Regions from separate parts of the Homo sapiens genome. Here regions 1, 3 and 4 are each linked to region 2. Evidence: fine-mapped expression QTL. A gene starts in region 2. Each other region holds a variant in brackets. All regions are shown on one strand. Distances are between the middles of the regions. Region 1 has its middle 2.3 kb from the start of MIR5705. Region 2 holds the start of HSD17B11 (hydroxysteroid 17-beta dehydrogenase 11). Region 3 overlaps AFF1 (ALF transcription elongation factor 1). Region 4 overlaps HSD17B11 (hydroxysteroid 17-beta dehydrogenase 11).

The links.
Region 1: its variant is fine-mapped to the expression of HSD17B11 in whole blood (TOPMed, PIP above 0.99). The same link has a PIP of 0.9 or more in breast, caudate, esophagus muscle, gastroesophageal junction, hippocampus and ovary.
Region 3: its variant is fine-mapped to the expression of HSD17B11 in whole blood (TOPMed, PIP 0.97).
Region 4: its variant is fine-mapped to the expression of HSD17B11 in whole blood (TOPMed, PIP above 0.99).

What each region holds. Positions count from the first base shown.
Region 1 is chr4:87,296,115-87,300,381 of GRCh38, forward strand. No RefSeq gene overlaps it. Among named protein-coding and RNA genes, the nearest start is that of MIR5705, 2.3 kb to the right of the region's middle. The variant A/T (reference allele first, on the strand shown) is at 2,171.
Region 2 is chr4:87,389,567-87,393,566 of GRCh38, forward strand. It overlaps HSD17B11 (hydroxysteroid 17-beta dehydrogenase 11), which reads right to left and starts at 1,622. Exons shown (of 7, transcript NM_016245.5): 1 at 1,295-1,622. The coding sequence starts at 1,504. RefSeq lists enhancers at 1,834-1,903, 1,917-2,489.
Region 3 is chr4:86,992,849-86,996,848 of GRCh38, forward strand. All of the region lies in intron 2 of AFF1 (ALF transcription elongation factor 1), which reads left to right. Among named protein-coding and RNA genes, the nearest start is that of AFF1, 60 kb to the left of the region's middle. The variant C/T (reference allele first, on the strand shown) is at 2,418.
Region 4 is chr4:87,363,373-87,367,639 of GRCh38, forward strand. All of the region lies in intron 4 of HSD17B11 (hydroxysteroid 17-beta dehydrogenase 11), which reads right to left. Among named protein-coding and RNA genes, the nearest start is that of HSD17B11, 26 kb to the right of the region's middle. The variant G/A (reference allele first, on the strand shown) is at 1,785.

The DNA.
Region 1 (4,267 bases), 93 kb before region 2:
AAAGAGACCGAGAAAATCAGCCAAAGAAGTCAGAGAAAAACTGGGAGGAACTGAAAAATACAACCTCCTCACATGAGAGGCCTTCTAGCTGATGATTAAGACCATGGATACTGTAGCTGAACTGACAACTCCACCATTTATTCCTTGGCTGTGTGGCCTTGGATGACAAGGTATTGACACTTTACAGTTGCTTATCTTTAAATTGTAGCCAGTTGAAATCCCTACCTCACAGGATTTTTTGTGATGATTAAATGAGTAAATGGATGTAAGGTTTGTAGGAAAGTGTATCAGAGAATAATAAGCCCTCTATATGTGTTTGCCAATGTTTGAAAGGATTAAATCCCTTTTATATCATATTGATTAATGGAGCATATAATTTCTATTCTCATTGGACCTTTAAAGATTCTTTTTATATCACCAGTTTCCGCCTAGCATCGCTCTGGAGATGTACAAGGGGCTTAGTAAAGGTTGATAGAAACAAACCAATTATGTAATCATAAATAATGCAATAGATGAATATAATACAATTATATGTAGCCATTAAGATTAAGAATAACTTAGGTGGTATGGTTCTTTTTAAAAATTTAAACATTGGCAGGGCCTGGTGGCTCAGGCCTGTAATCCCAGCACTTTGGACGGTCAATGGGAGGACGGCTTGAGCCCAGGAGTTAGAGACCAGCCTGGGCAACATGACAAGATCTCATCTCTACAAAAAAAATACAAAAAATTAGCTGGTCTTGGTGGTGTGCACCTGTGGTCCCAGCTACTCAAGAGGCTGAGGTGCAAGGACTGCTTGAGCCTAGGAGGTCGAGGTTGCTGTGAGCTGTGATGTAGCCACTGCACTCCAGCCTGGCAAAAGAGCAAGGCCCTATCTAAAATAAATAAATAAATAAATAAAATTTAAACGTTTAAAAATTATGGGCCAGGCATGGTGACTATGCCTGCAATCCCAGCACTTTGGGAGGCCAAGATGGGCAGATCCCCTGATGTCAGGAGTTTGAGACCTTGAGACCAGCCTGGCCAACATGGTGAAACCCTGTCTCTACTAAAAATACAAAAAAAATTAGCCAGGCATGGTGGCAGGCACCTGTAATCCCAGGTACTCGGGAGGCTGAGGCAAGAGAATCATTGAATCCCTGAGATAGAAGTTGCAGTGAGCCAAGATCGTGCCACTGAAATCCAGCTTGGGTGACAGAAAAGGATTGCGTCTTGAAAAAAAAAATTATGGTGAAATATACATAATATAAAGTTTACCATTTTAACTATTTTTAAGTGTAAAGTTCAGTAGTATCAACTACATTCATATTTTGCAGCCATCACCACCATCCATCTCTACAACTTTTTCAACTTCCTAAACTGACACTCTGTACCCATTAAATAATAACTCCCCATTCTCCATTCCCCTCAGCCCCTGAAACTACCATTCTACTTTCTGTCTCTGTGTATTTGATCACTCTAGATACCTCGTATGAGTGGGATCATACACTATTTATACTTTGTACTTTTGTGACTAGCTCATTTCACTTAGCATAAAGTCCTCAAGGTTCATCCATGTTGTAGCATGGTGTCAGAATTTTCCTCTTGTTTAAAGCTGGATAGTATTCTACTGTATGTATATGCCACATTTTGTTTATCCATTCATCCATTGATGGATATTTGGGTTACTTCCACTTTTTGGCTACTGTGAATAATGCTGCTATGAATGTGGGTGTACCAATATCTATTTGAGTTTTCTTTTCAATTCCTTTGGGTATATACCCGGAAGTGAAATTGCTGGATCATATGGTAATTCTGTTTACATGCAATGGTTATTTTAATATTGTATCTTGCCCCCCTTATATTTAGTTCAAAATCTGAGAACTCATCACTATGCTGTACTCTCTTATTGCCTCAAGACTTGTGCACTTTATAATTTTAGATACTCTTGTAAGCACTGGAAATCCTTTCTGAAATAAAGGTGGGTAGAAAGTAATCAATAAATACCAGCTATAATATGTTAACTTCACTTTTTCCATGGTCAATAATAGATAATCTATACATAACTATTAAATACATGGCTCAGATAAATGTACTTATAGCAATTTGAAATTTTGCATGGTTTTATATTGTGACTGTATATATGCCTGTATTGTGAAATTTAATAGCATACATATATTTATCTTTATTTATA[A/T]ATTGGTTATTTTATAACTTACTATTTTCTTCTGTGCTCTATCCTCCACTTCAGTGCTAGTTTTGTCTTTCTCAACCACAGATCTGATCTCGTTGGTTTTATGTACTCTACTCTTGCATGGCTTGCCTCAATAAAATCCAAATCTGTCAACATGTTTTTTGAAACTCTGTACTGTTGGGCCCCAAACATCTTTTCCAAGCTGTTATTCCCCCAGATTCCCAGGTGCATGATCCATGTTGACCCTGGATGACTTACCATGCTACAAACGCACAACTTGTAAAACATTTTGTACCAACATGCATGTTTGTTCCCTGTGGCATATTCTTGCACCTCCTCCTCTTTAATATCTTTAATTGCATCTCCTCAGCAAAGATTTGCCCTGTCACCCAAATTAATCATGCTGTCTATTCACAAAGCACTTGGTTAGTAACTTTTCAAAGGGACTAACCCTATTTTTCTTTGAGTGAGTTGTTATTTACAAACAGGCTGGATTAGCTGATCTGTTGTAAACATCTTTAAAGCAAGGATCACATCTTCCTCTCTGATTTTTCTACATTCTAGCATCATGTATTTCCTATCAAAGTTGCCGAGTGAATATCTTTTCTTGAATGAATTGTAGAAAAAGCCTTGTTTTGGCTTGAAAAAGTCTATGAGTTGTTGTAGTTTATCTTGAATATTTCTACATTAAATTCACCAGCATAGAAAATAATACTCTCAAATGTGCAATATTGTTAGATAACAAGGTACACTGGAACTGCAATATTGTTTGAAATATTTAAATCACATCATTCCAAATTGAATTCAACATCAAGTGGTCTTTTTTTTTTTCCTGCTACATAGGTAATACAGGATAGTTTTGATGACTGAAAAATAGGCTATGTTTCCAGACTAGATTAGAATGTGGGGAGAAGCTTAGAAAGAGAAGGCTGAAAAGAGAAAGAGAACAATGGAAGAGAAGTAGAGAACTAAATGCATCAAATTAATTGAACGAAGTCTGAACTAATTAGTAAAGAGCCATCAGAAGGAAAGAGGTGTTGAGAAACAGAAAGTCAAAAAATCCAGGGCTGGGTGCAGTGACTCACGCCCATAATCTCAGCACTTTGGGAGGCCGAGGCGGGCTGATCACTGGAGGCCAGGAGTTCGAGACCAGTCTGGCCAACATAGTGAAACCCTGTCTCTACTAAAAGTACAAAAATTAGCTGGATGTAGTGGTGCATGCCTATAAACCCAGGTACTCAGGAGGCTGAGGCTGGAGAATCCCTTGAACCCGGGAAATGGAGGCTGCAGTGAGCCAAGATCACACCACTGCACTCCAGCCTGGGTGACAAAGTGAGACTCTGTCTCAAAAAGAAAAAAAAAAAAGTGAAAAATCCTAGTTATTGGAATTAGGTATGGGAACAGGCAATTTGGTTTTCAGTGTTGTTTGGGAATATTTAAGTCTTAATTTATACAAGTTAGCCTCACATTTAAAAGTAAGAAGATCTCTATTGAGATAATGGATCATTACTGGAGTGCAATTGGTAAATGACTTCACTTTTCATAAGTGTTTTGATGTGAATTTATGAATATTCTCTAGCTGCTCACTGGGTTTGTGAAGTTAGTTTGAATGAGACATGATTGCACCCTAGGCAAGTCAGAATGTACTTGCTTTGATTTCACTGTGATTACTTTTACTATAAAAGATTCCCATTAAATACAAGTAAGTTCCCACTTAACTTTCCTGTAATTCCACCCTTGCTGCAAGCAGCTGACAGGCAAATTTGATCAGATGTAATACATCCAATCAGATAAAGAAGGGGTTTCAGCAAAACACTTGGCAGATTTGAAGAGCTGAATAGAAAAGGTCATGAGCTGTCTGAAAACTTTTAGACACAAGAGGAAGCAAATAGTAGAAAGCGTGAGAGCACTCTTAGGACAGGGATTGGCATTTCCCCCTTACGGTTTCTCACGTAATTTGTGAAGACATAAACACAAGGGTAACTGTTAAATTCGTTGTAATTATCACATGTACAGAACAGCCCAGTTCACATAATGCTGCACTAAATTCAAAGTTAGTGTTATAAAAAAAGATGCCTCTAAAACATATGAATTACCTAG
Region 2 (4,000 bases):
GGTCATGGAACCTTATTTTCTGTTTGTCACCCTATCCCTAATGTCTAAGCAGCAGACAGTCATTATTTGTTGATTGCTGTCTTCATCAGCCACTCACTGGGTTAACCCTCATTTAACTTCACATCCTTTGAATTATTGTTTACAGCATTGCATGTCAACTAGTGTGTAATGGATAATGTTTCAGGCCATCAGGTATCTTCTAGAAACCCCTTTGTTCATCTACCAAAGGTCAAATAAAAGGTTGGATTCTAGGTCCTCTTCTCCTCCCTAAGCCACACCTACACTTGTCCTAGGTAAAAAATTACACTGAAAGTTTTTTTCCCTTTTATTGTTTTTACTAAAAGATGCTTTCCCGCCACTCCTTCAGTATCACAGGTCAAACGTGGTAAAAAATGTTTTTTAAAAAAATTTGAGACAGGGTCTCACTCTGTCACCCAGGCTGGAGTGCAGTGGGGCGTTTACAGCTCACTGCAGTCTCCACCTCCCAGGCTCAAGCAACCCCCCACCTCAGCCTCCCGGAAAAGATGCTTTTTAAAATTACTCTTGGCAATAACTATGGCAATGTAGCATTGGTTTCTGTTGAGTATAATCTTTTTGTTTGTTTTTTGAGACGGAGTCTAGCTCTGTCGCCCAGGCTGAAGTGCAGTGGCGCCATCTTGGCTCACTGCAACCTCCGCCCCGCGGGGTTCCCGCCATTCTCCTGCCTCAGCCTCCCCAATAGCTGGGACTACAGACGCCCGCCACCACGCCCGGCTAATTTTTTTTTGGTATTTTTAGTAGAGACGGGGTTTCAGTGTGTTAGGATGGTCTCGATCTCCTGACCTCGCGATCCGCCTGCCTTGGACTCCCAAAGTGCTGGGATTACAGGCGTGAGCCAACGGCGAGTATAATCTTTCAAACCACTTTTCTCATTAACAGTAAGTAGGACTTTCTCTTAATAGGTACAAGCTTCTTACTCTTTTAATATATAGCTAAAACGATTGTTTTTTCCCTATTTTTAAAATAGAGGGATCAATGAAATCAGGTTCAGGAAAAAATTATGAGTTATCCTTAGGGCAAAAATGGGGATCAATTTACAAATGGGGCAGTAACTGGGACTATTATAACCTCTAGGTCTGTTTATCATGTGATCATACAACATATTAATTCATGCCCTCCCATCTGCAAAATGGCAATACTAATTTTTTTTTCCTCCCTGCTTTGCAGAGATGAGGTAAAGGGTGGTTGCCAGCAAAATGCAGACACATCCACAAATTAAAGGTACCAGAAAGTAAAACATAGTAAACACTGTTACCTTATTTATATCCCAGAGAACCAGCTTGCTTTTAAGTTTAGCAAATTCATAGGCAGTCAGTCTCCCAATTCCATGCCCAGCTCCTGTAATCAGCACGATTTCGCCGGTGACTGATTTTCTCCTCTTAGGAATAAAAAGCTTCACGAAGGACTCTAGGGAGCAGACGATCAGTAACGGGAGAAGCAGGAGGATGTCCAGAAGAAATTTCATCCCTTTTGTGGCTGCGAGCGTTTGGTGTGTTTTTTTTTTTTTTTACCACTCTAAACTGCTTTTAGAGGGTAGCTCGATCTAACACCAGAAAGAGTAGGGGCGAGAGCAAGGAGGAACTCCCGTATCAAAGAAAAACAACTCCGAAACCGTTCCTTCCGCTGGGCTGGGCTTTGTTGGTCTTTCGCAATTGGCTCGGGCTGCAGTGCTTGCTAGCTCAGAGATCTGGGAGGGACGAAGTCCAGACCGGAGCAAAGCTTCCTAGTTCTGCTTTGCGCAGCCCCCACGCGGTGTGTGGCCGCGATTGTCTTTTACACCACTTTCTCCCGGTGTCGTGAGCCGGCCTTGGAGGGTTAGTTGCTCACTTGTTTTCCTAAATTGGATAAGTTCCAAGGATAACCGACAGTGTCCACAGGCCAGATGCTTCTTTCATAGTTGAAGGTTGCTTATCACTAGATAGGGGGTGCCGCTGGGCGCGGCGGCTCTCGCCTGTGATCCTGGCACTTTGAGAAGCCCTGGCGGGAGGATCGCTTGACCCCAGGAGTTCGAGATCAGCCTGAACAACATAGGGAGACCCCCGGTCTCTTTTTTTTTTTTTTTAATTAGCCAGGCGTAGTGGCGTGTGCCTGTAGTTCCAGCTACTCGAGAGACTGAGGCACGGGAATTGCTTGAGTCCAGGAGGTGGAGGCTACAGTGAGTGAAGATCGCGCCACTGCACTCCAGCCTGGACGAAAAGGCCAGACTTTGTCCTAAAAAACAAAAACTAGATAGAGGATGCAAATGTAGATTCCTATCTTAAAGGATCCTGAAAAGACCAATCGTTCTGCTTCCAGCTGAGAAATTGCGCTACATCACATTTTAGTTTGAACTAAGCACGATTTCTGGAAGACAGGGGAAATTTTGTCTGTTCAAGGACAGCTTCAATCAAGCGCCAGAAAAAATTGTTATCGTATTAAAGGGATTGTTTCCACAAGAAAGAAGAGTATATTTGAATAATCATTTTTCACTTGACCTATTAGAGTTTGAAAATAAAAAATATATGTTGTACTTTAGGAATTTTATCTTTATTCAAGTGAATAAATAGCAAATCATTTAGCCTAAAGATTACCTATGTAACATTTGGTTTTGTAGCCTATATAAATGGGTATTCAGTATATGCTAACTAGTGACTTGAAAAAATTCTAGAGATTGGTTACTGGAAGAAAAGACCTAACTAGGGCTTGTGTCCAGTAAGAGCTTAATAATGGTATTGCATGCATTTTTTTCCAACTCATTTTTGACAGACATTGGATTTGGGTTTTGCGCAAGACACTCCAGTGCTTGGGAAGGGACTTTGTTGTGTGACAATAGTCAACTTTCATATTTAAGAGCCAGAAAGATCACACAAAAAAATCAAAGTTCACAAATAGTTCAAACTCGATTGTCCCTCTTACTTAAGCAGCCATACGTTGTTATAGGGGATGAAGGGATAGTGGCAGCCTCACAAAAGTGAACCCCATTATAGAATTCTTTGAATTCAGAATATCTACAACTTTTTTTTGGATAGCCTCCAAATCCAAATTTACAAAACACTTGTATAGAAAGTTTACAAAGTGTTCTTCCACATATATTATTTCATTTGATTTTCAAAAGCCTCCTAGGAAATAGAGAAAAGTAGAGTCAGGATATATTTATACCTATACTGTAAATGAATAAATCTGTTAGATCAACTTTAAAATCTACACAGTGAGTAAAAGTGTAACTGGGGCTACACATATGTTCAGTGTTTGTCAATTTTTTGGTCCAACACCTACAGGAATAAATTACATCTGACATGGTGATCTACTATAAGAAGTGTTTCAACTATGTTGAGTTTCATATATTGAGGCTCTAGCTATGCTATTTTTTTTTTTTTTAAAGGAGTCTCCCTCTGTCTCCAGGCTGGAGTGCAGTGGCGAAATCTTGGCTCACAGCAACCTCAACCTCCACCTCCCAGGTTCAAGCGATTCTCCTGCCTCAGCCTCCCAAGTAGCTGGGACTACAGGCACGCACCACCACACCCAGCTAATTTTTGTATTTTTAGTAGACAGGGTTTCCCCATGTTGGCTAGGATGGTCTCAATCTCGATCTCCTGTTCCACCCACCTTGGTCTTCCCAAGTGCTGGGATTACAGGCGTGAGCCATGGCACACGGTCTGGCTATGCTATTTCTTATTCCATTCTATTAATTAAAAAAAACTGGGTAGTTTTAACCTACAGTTGATCAAGGTTTCATTGGTTAAGGGAAAGAACACAGCATTTGGACGCAGTCGTACCTGAATCCCTTATGTGTATGTGACTTCATCTCTCTAAACATGTTTCTAAATTTGTAAAATTGAAATAATACTTACCCTACAGGATTCTTGTGACGTTCAAACGAGTTAATAGAAAGCACATTGCTTTATCAACTATTCAACTTTATGTAAATTATAATTAACACCAATAGAATGTGAGTGATGTGAATGGTCTTGTGAATGATGGT
Region 3 (4,000 bases), 400 kb before region 2:
TGGTTATTAATCAGCTTTTTGTTCTCTAGATTAATTGTAATTTCAAGACATGTAGGATTTAGAAAATGGAGTAGCCCTTTCTTTGAGTGAGTAAGTTCTTAGAAGACAAAGATTTTTTAAAAAACATGCTTTCCTATAGGGTTGCATGAGCTTTAGACGTAATAAATGCTCAATAAATGTTGATTTGATTTAGTTTTAATCTTCCTGTTTTACATGTGACCTAGGTAGGAAACAGAGTCCACAGCCAAGAAGCCTCAAATAAAACTCCCCTAACTTTTTGGAAGGCAGCCTCAGTCCTCAGATGGAAGGTAAAATCCATACCTCCAATTAGGTTTTGCTTGGATTCAAACATTTGCTAGGAATAAAAACAGCACATTTACGACAGGCTAGGTATCACAGAAAGTGCCAGTAGTTGATGTAACCTCTTTTATGTGTGAGGAGACCAGATCTTAGTATAACTAATAAGCTGCAATTTACTGATCATTGTGGCTTGCCTATATATGTAGTTTTTTTCTCCCACAAATGAGGAAAACATCCCTGCAGAGATTGAGGAATATCTCCTATCTTCCAGTTCTTAAATCCTTCCCCTTTCCTGATATGTGTTCAGGAAAATTTAGGGATAGTTTCAAGGGCAGGAAAAGCCCATAACTCATAGATGACTATGCCACAATACTGTTCAGAGACTGTTTCAAACTGAATAATGGTAGTAATTGTGGACACTTGTCTTTGAGAGTTTATGGAACTCCTAAATGTCATAGATTTTATAGTACTGTGCTTCTCAGAGTTCAATGAGTATATGAATCACCTTTGAATTTTGTTAAAATGCAGATTCTGGGCTGGGCATGGTGGCTCATGCCTGTAATCCCAGCATTTTGGGAGGCTGAGGTGGGTGGATTATGAGGTCAGGAGTTCGAGACCAGCCTGGCCAACATAGTGAAACCCCATCTCTACTAAAAATACAAAAAATTAGCTGGGCATGGTAATGTGTGCCTGTAATTCCAGCTACTCGGGAGGCTAAGGCAGGAGAATCATGTGAACCCAGGAGGTGGAGGTTTGCAGTGAGCTGAGATCGTGCCATTTCACTCCAGCCTGGGAGACAGAGCGAGACTCCGTCTTAAAAAATAATAATACATTAAAAATATAAAAATGCAGATTCTGATTCAGGAAATCTGGGATGGGACCTAAAACTGCATTTCTTATAGGCCTCTCATGTTAGAGCTGCTGCTCTGCAGCCTTACTTTAAGTAACAAGGCACTAAAACACAGGTTCTAACTCAACTGCACACTAAATTGCCAGAAGGCACTAAAAAAGAGTCCCCCTACTAAATAAACTATATTTAAACAAACATTTGTTTTCTTACTTGAATTAATCAAAACACACGAAGTTGCTAATTCGACTTCCTGATCACTGTGGGCTCACTGGTGCTGGCACACTGAGTTGGCATAAGCTCCAGGAAGGCCCAGAGCGGAGTCCTTCACACACTTCTCATGGTCAAATATGTGGTTTCCTTTGGATTTTTTGAAATGTTGGAAATTGTTCATTGATCCTCACTTGCTCCATTTGTGGATCTGGATCAGAGTCCACTGATTGTGTAATGAGAGAACCCCAGATTATGCAATCTGGGGGCAGATCTCACCTGCAAACACATGTGTAAAAGGAAATCTTAGCAGCTGCAACTGTAGCAGAGTTCTTCACAGTTCTCTGCTTCAGAAATTATCTTTTGGCTGCATTGGTTTTGGCTGCCTTTCTGCTCAAACAAGCAAACACTCCCCTTGATCCATCCAGCATCATGACTTGATATGCATGAGAACTAGGAGCTTGTGTTAGGTAGAGTGAAGGATAAGCTATCAGAGAAGGCTTCTGAGAAGAGCTGCATTTGTTAGAGTTTAGATAATGGTAAGGGGTCTTCAGCTGGAGCAGAGGGAAAGGGGCATTCTAATGAAGAGAAAATACTGTCTGCAAAGGTTGGTGGCATTAGAGAACTGTGGGGCTGGAGGGTGTTCATGGGAAAGCGGGGAGGGGACAGAGAGAGGTTTGGTGGATGATAAGGCTACTGAAGTTGGTCCAAATTGGGAAGGGTGTTAGATATCCTGTAAGAAACTGTCTCCAGGCCAGGCATGGTGGCTCACACTTTGTAATCTCAGCACTTCGGGAGGCCAAGGCAGGTGGATCACCTGAGTCCAGGAGTTTGAGATCAGCCTAGGCAACATGGTAAAACCTAGTCTTTACAAAAAATTAGCCAGGTGTGGTGTTGTGTGCCTGTAGCCCCAGCTACTCAGGAGGCTGAGGTAGGAGGATTGCTTGAGCCCTGGAGACCGAGGCTGCAGTCAACTGAAATTGCAGCACTGCACTTCAGCCTGGGCAACAGAATGAGACCTTTTCTCAAAAAACAAACAGGCAGTTAGAAAAATCTACCC[C/T]CTTCCCCCTCCCCCTCTCCCTCCCCCTCTCCCTCCCTCCCCCTCTCCCCACGGTCTCCCTCTCCCTCTCTTTCCACGGTCTCCCTCTGATGCCGAGCCGAAGCTGGACGGTACTGCTGCCATCTCGGCTCACTGCAACCTCCCTGCCTGATTCTCCTGCCTCAGCCTGCCGAGTGCCTGCGATTGCAGGCGCGCGCCGCCACGCCTGACTGGTTTTCGTATTTTTTTGGTGGAGACGGGGTTTCGCTGTGTTGGCCGGGCTGGTCTCCAGCTCCTAACCTCGAGTGATCCGCCAGCCTCGGCCTCCCGAGGTGCCGGGATTGCAGACGGAGTCTCCTTCACTCAGTGCTCAATGGTGCCCAGGCTGGAGTGCAGTGGTGTGATCTCGGCTCGCTACAACCTCCACCTCCCAGCAGCCTGCCTTGGCCTCCCAAAGTGCCGAGATTGCAGCCTCTGCCCGGCCGCCACCCCGTCTGGGAAGTGAGGAGCGTCTCTGCCAGGCCGCCCATCGTCTGGGATGTGAGGAGCCCTTCTGCCTGGCTGCCCAGTCTGGAAAGTGAGGAGCGTCTCTGCCTGGCCGCCATCCCATCTGGGAAGTGAGGAGCGTCTCTGCCCGGCCGCCCATCGTCTGAGATGTGGGGAGCACCTCTGCCCTGCCGCCCCGTCCGGGATGTGAGGAGCGTCTCTGCCCGGCCGCCCCGTCTGAGAAGTGAGGAGCCCCTCCGCCCGGCAGCCGCCCCGTCTGAGAAGTGAGGAGCCCCTCCGCCCAGCAGCCACCCCGTCTGGGAAGTGAGGAGCGTCTCTGCCCGGCAGCCACCTCGTCTGGGAGGGAGGTGGGGGGGTCAGGCCCCCGCCCGGCCAGCCGCCCTGTCCGGGAGGTGAGGGGCACCTCTGCCCGGCCGCCCCTACTGGGAAGTGAGGAGCCCCTCTGCCTGGCCACCACCCCGTCTGGGAGGTGTACCCAACAGCTCATTGAGAACGGGCCATGATGACAATGGCGGTTTTGTGGAATAGAAAGGGGGGAAAGGTGGGGAAAAGATTGAGAAATCGGATGGTTGCTGTGTCTGTGTAGAAAGAGGTAGACATGGGAGACTTTTCATTTTGTTCTGTACTAAGAAAAATTCTTCTGCCTTGGGATCCTGTTGATCTGTGACCTTACCCCCAACCCTGTGCTCTCTGAAACATGTGCTGTATCCACTCAGGGTTGAATGGATTAAGGGCGGTGCAAGATGTGCTTTGTTAAACAGATGCTTGAAGGCAGCATGCTCGTTAAGAGTCATCACCACTCCCTAATCTCAAGTACCCAGGGACACAAACACTGCGGAAGGCCGCAGGGTCCTCTGCCTAGGAAAACCAGAGACCTTTGTTCACTTGTTTATCTGCTGACCTTCCCTCCACTATTGTCCTGTGACCCTGCCAAATCCCCCTCTGTGAGAAACACCCAAGAATGATCAATTAAAACAAACAAACAAACAAAAAAACCCACAAATATTTATGTTGAAACTTAAACCCGATGTGGCAGTATTAAAAGGTGGAGCCTTTAAGAGGTGATTGGATCGTGAAGGATCTGCCCTCATGAATGA
Region 4 (4,267 bases), 26 kb before region 2:
CTTAAGCTGGTGTATTTTGTGCTATGAATTCGTTTTTCCGTGTAGAGGGGTACTTCAGGATAAAACATGGGCTTAGAACACCTGTAAGCCCGCTTTTCAAGACTACCCAGCAAGCTGGTCAGTAACAAACTTGGTTGCAGGTCCCTGAAACAAACAAAAAACCCGATGAAGTCTCCACCTTGTTTTATGTGCTTGGGAGCTTGACCTTTTAACCGCATGGCAGTACCTTCTCTTGGGCTCTGTCTTCCAGGGAACAAGAATTTTAAAGTTCATGTCATAGCCAGCTCTGAAAATCATATTAAATAGTTAAAAGCCTTTGCAAGCTCAAAATTAACTAATCTAGACTACTTCTGAGAAAAGAAATAGACACTGCCCAGACCTGTAGCTCAGTAGCTAAGGTTTTGCACTTTCACAGTGGCAGTCTAGGTTCAATTCCCCACCCAGGAAATAAGTCATTACTGATTTAATATATGTGTCTATTCTCTTCTCCTCCATGGACTGTCTTCAATTTTCCTTCTTCTAAGCACCTAGGAGTTTACCTTTGGTAAAGTTCAGAAGCTGGAAATATTGGCCGCTTGGCATGGCTAAAGTCGGGTAATAAGAGCTCTGAAAGGATTTCTTCTTTAAAGAGCACTATGGTGAAAAGTCAGCTTAATTAAAAGTGGAATAAGCTATAAATATATTTAAAAGGCCTTTATGTTTTTCTCTTCTTGAAGCTTGTTTTGCTGGAAAAAGGTTTTTTCTTCTCAGTCAAGTGAATTATTTTTGTTTTTTTGTTTTGTTTTGTTTTGTTTTGTCTTGTTACTATTAATGCTCACATGAAAGGCCCGTAGATAACTTCTGGTAGCTTGGGACTACTTGGGAAAAACAAAGGCAGCACCACAGATCCAGTTTTGGGAAAAAAAAAAAAAAAAGAAAAAAAACCCCTCTGTTTTCCTCATGAGACCCCAAGAATTAAAAGCAGATAGATTCCTCTCAAAATCAAAGGCTCTGTTCTGTTTTGCATTGTGTTATCTGACGGTTTTGAGTTTGGGGGAGGGGGGTTATCAGCAATTACTTTGCATTATGAGAGAGCTTTGGTGTGTAACAACTAGGTAGGAAATGTACTTTAAGGGGTGGCTAATAGTAGTTATGGAGGGATACTTGACTCTGCACACTTGGATCAGAGAAGCATGCTCTAGGCCACCTGGAAGATAAGGCAACATCCTCACCCCTCACTGGGAGATGAGACTCTCATGAGGATGGGCTGATTACAAAATGGGCTGATTGGCTTTAGGTTGCCTTGCAATGAAATGCACAGTCGGTAAAAGCACTGCATTGTCTTCTCCCGTAGTATTTCCCTCCTTTTGGGGATCCAGGATCCAGTATAAAATACCACCTTTAATTTTGGAGATCTGTCTGCCTTCAGCTGCTTATTTGCTACTTATTTAGCCCTAGAAATGCATGCTGTCCCAGCTCTGTTCCTCCAAGGGCTCCACTCTGAAACCTGTCATCCAATTAAGAAACTGGCAAATGGTGGGGCGAGGTGGCTCATGCCTGTAATCCCAGCACTTTGGGAGGCTGAGGTGGGCGGATCACTTGAGGTCAGGAGTTCAAGACCAGCCTGGCCAACATGGGGAAAACCCGTCTCTAGTAAAAATACAAAAATTAGCTGGGTGTGGTGGTGGGCGCCTGTAATCCCAGCTACGCGGGAGGCTGAGGCATGAGAATCACTTGAACCTGGGAGGCAGAGGTTGCAGTGAGCCAAGATCATGCCACTGCACTCCAGCCTGGGTGACAAGAGC[G/A]AAACTTTGTCTCAAAAAAAAAGAAACTGGCAAACGAAAAACTGTATAAGTGCTGAATCTTCTATTTATAGTGTATGTTTATATATTACAAAGCTCTAATCAATTGACTTAGAAAAGTAAGTGCGTAAATATTTTTTCAGAAAAATAGAAACTAATGCCTTTTTGTTCGTGTGACTTTAGTAATCTTTTGAAAATAAAGACAGTTTTAAAGTTTATTGGTAAAATAAAATGTCTTAAAAATGTAGACATTTGGTCTAAATTAAGGTCAGATATCAGATTTGCTAAATGCTTTAAGGACAAACTGTTTCTTTAACTTTTGAAAACTGTTCTATTTACCTACTTTAAAGCCATCAGATTCTAGATAAGGCCTCATGCCCCTGGCTATGCTGGAGAGTCAGCCCTTATCTGCACTTCTGCCTGGTGTGTCCTAGACTAGTCTCCACACCTAGTACATAATTAAAATCCCTTACTTAACCAACGTTTTCATCAAAAATAAAAGTTGCTAGAAGTTAGCATTGTAATGTGTAATTAAGACTACTGAAGAAACAGTTTTACATGCAAGGTGTATAAAAAAGGTGAAATGTGTTTTTGGTTAAAAAAAAAATTGTAAGAAGAAGCATGGGAATGCGGATTATTTTCTGCCTAGATTAAAGTGTTAAAGGATTGTGTTAAGTGAAAAAAAAAAAAAGATTTAAAGAAGTTGTGGAAGGTTTTTTTTAGATGGAGTTTTGTTCTTGTTGCCCAGGCTGGAGTGCAATGGCGTGATCTTGACTCACCGCAACCTCTGCTTCCCGGGTTCAAGCAATTCTTCTGTCTCAGCCTCCCAGGTAGCTGGGATTACAGGCATGTGCCACCATGCCTGGCTAATTTTGTATTTTTAGTAGAGACAGGGTTTCTCCATGTTGATCAGGCTGGTCTTGAACTTCCGACCTCAGGTGATCCACCCATCTTGGCCTCCCAAAGTGTTGGGATATACAGGTGTGAGCCACTGCACCTGGCCTTTGTGGAAGGTTTATAAAAATTAATTGTAAGAGATTCTGTGTATGAACATATTAGCTAAAGTTAAAGGGGTATTATTCAGTTTTTCCATAAATTAAACATTGGAATAAAAGCACAACAGGTTTCTCTTAGAGGACTTATCTGCGCTTTCACAAAAAAATGTAAAGGGTTATAAAGGTTTATAAAATCTTACCTTAGGATTAAACATTAAAATTGGGTAAATATGTCTCTAAGGTTTTATTAAAAATTGGGTTTAACATTAATAATACATTAATGTAAAGGTGAAATTTCGCTTATTTGGTATAAAAATCATCCAGGAAGCATTCTCAAATGTGAAACAGTGTTTTGCTTTCTTTGGACTATATTTGTATAAATATGTTATTGGTATATGTTCCAAAGTTATAAGAAACTCCTTTATTTCTAATATGACTTAGTGTATGTTACTAATAATTATAATTGTTATGTAAAATTTTGTATGCCACAAAAGTAACCAAATTTCCTTATCAATTGTGGCTTTAATAGTGGCTGTCCTAAAGTTTTTATCATCCACAGACAGTTGTTGTCTTGTTTTAATCTTCTTTAAAAGGTGGTTTATAATCAACTATAGAATTCTAGCAGATGTTCTTAAATGCAGGTTGCTAATAACTTTAGAAATTGTAACATTAAAATAAAGAAAACAACTTTCGAAACTCTCATAAAAAGCTGGAATGTTCATGAATAACAAGTAGAACAGGAGTTAACTGAATTAACTGAACCAATAGAAAACTGAAGTAATTTTTTTTAACTTTGCTTAAAATATTGCTGATCTTTTATTTTTCAAAGGAAACTTCTTTTAAGCTATTTACAGCTTGCAGCAATTAAGTAAAATATACTCCTATGAACAAAATTTGAAACATATTTGTTTCTCTCTACCTGATTTCTCCGGAATGGAAACCAATTGTAAGTATTCTTAACTTATGGCAATATAGTTGTTTGTATAAGTGCAACAAAAATCTGTTTTCTTTTGTAATGGGACACTATTGGAGAAATTGGTTATTTTACCAAGGCTTTGACTGGAATGGTGTGCTTTCCTTTAAAGAATCAAACTTGACTTGTAAAGCCAATAAAAGCCCTATGGGAAACTGGCCTCATACTTTGCCTACACAGTCCCTGTACAGGGTTTCTGACCTATGGTAAGTAAAGAATGTCACTTTCTTACAGGTCCAGGAGGCCCAAGTTAACTTGGGACCTCAAAAGAAAAGTGTTTTACCCAACTCATAGGTATTTAAGGGTACAAACCCATGGCAGGGCTTAGCTTTAAAAAAGTCTTACCTGAGATTCCTTATAAAACAGAGTTCCATCAAAGCCAATTAAAAAGCCTGTGTGAAAAATAATTATTCTCGCTGCACTTTATACAAATAATCAGACCAAGTATAATAAAGCAAATCAGTCTTACCATAATGTGTCTTTAATAAAAATGGGAAACTGGAGAGAGAATATTATAT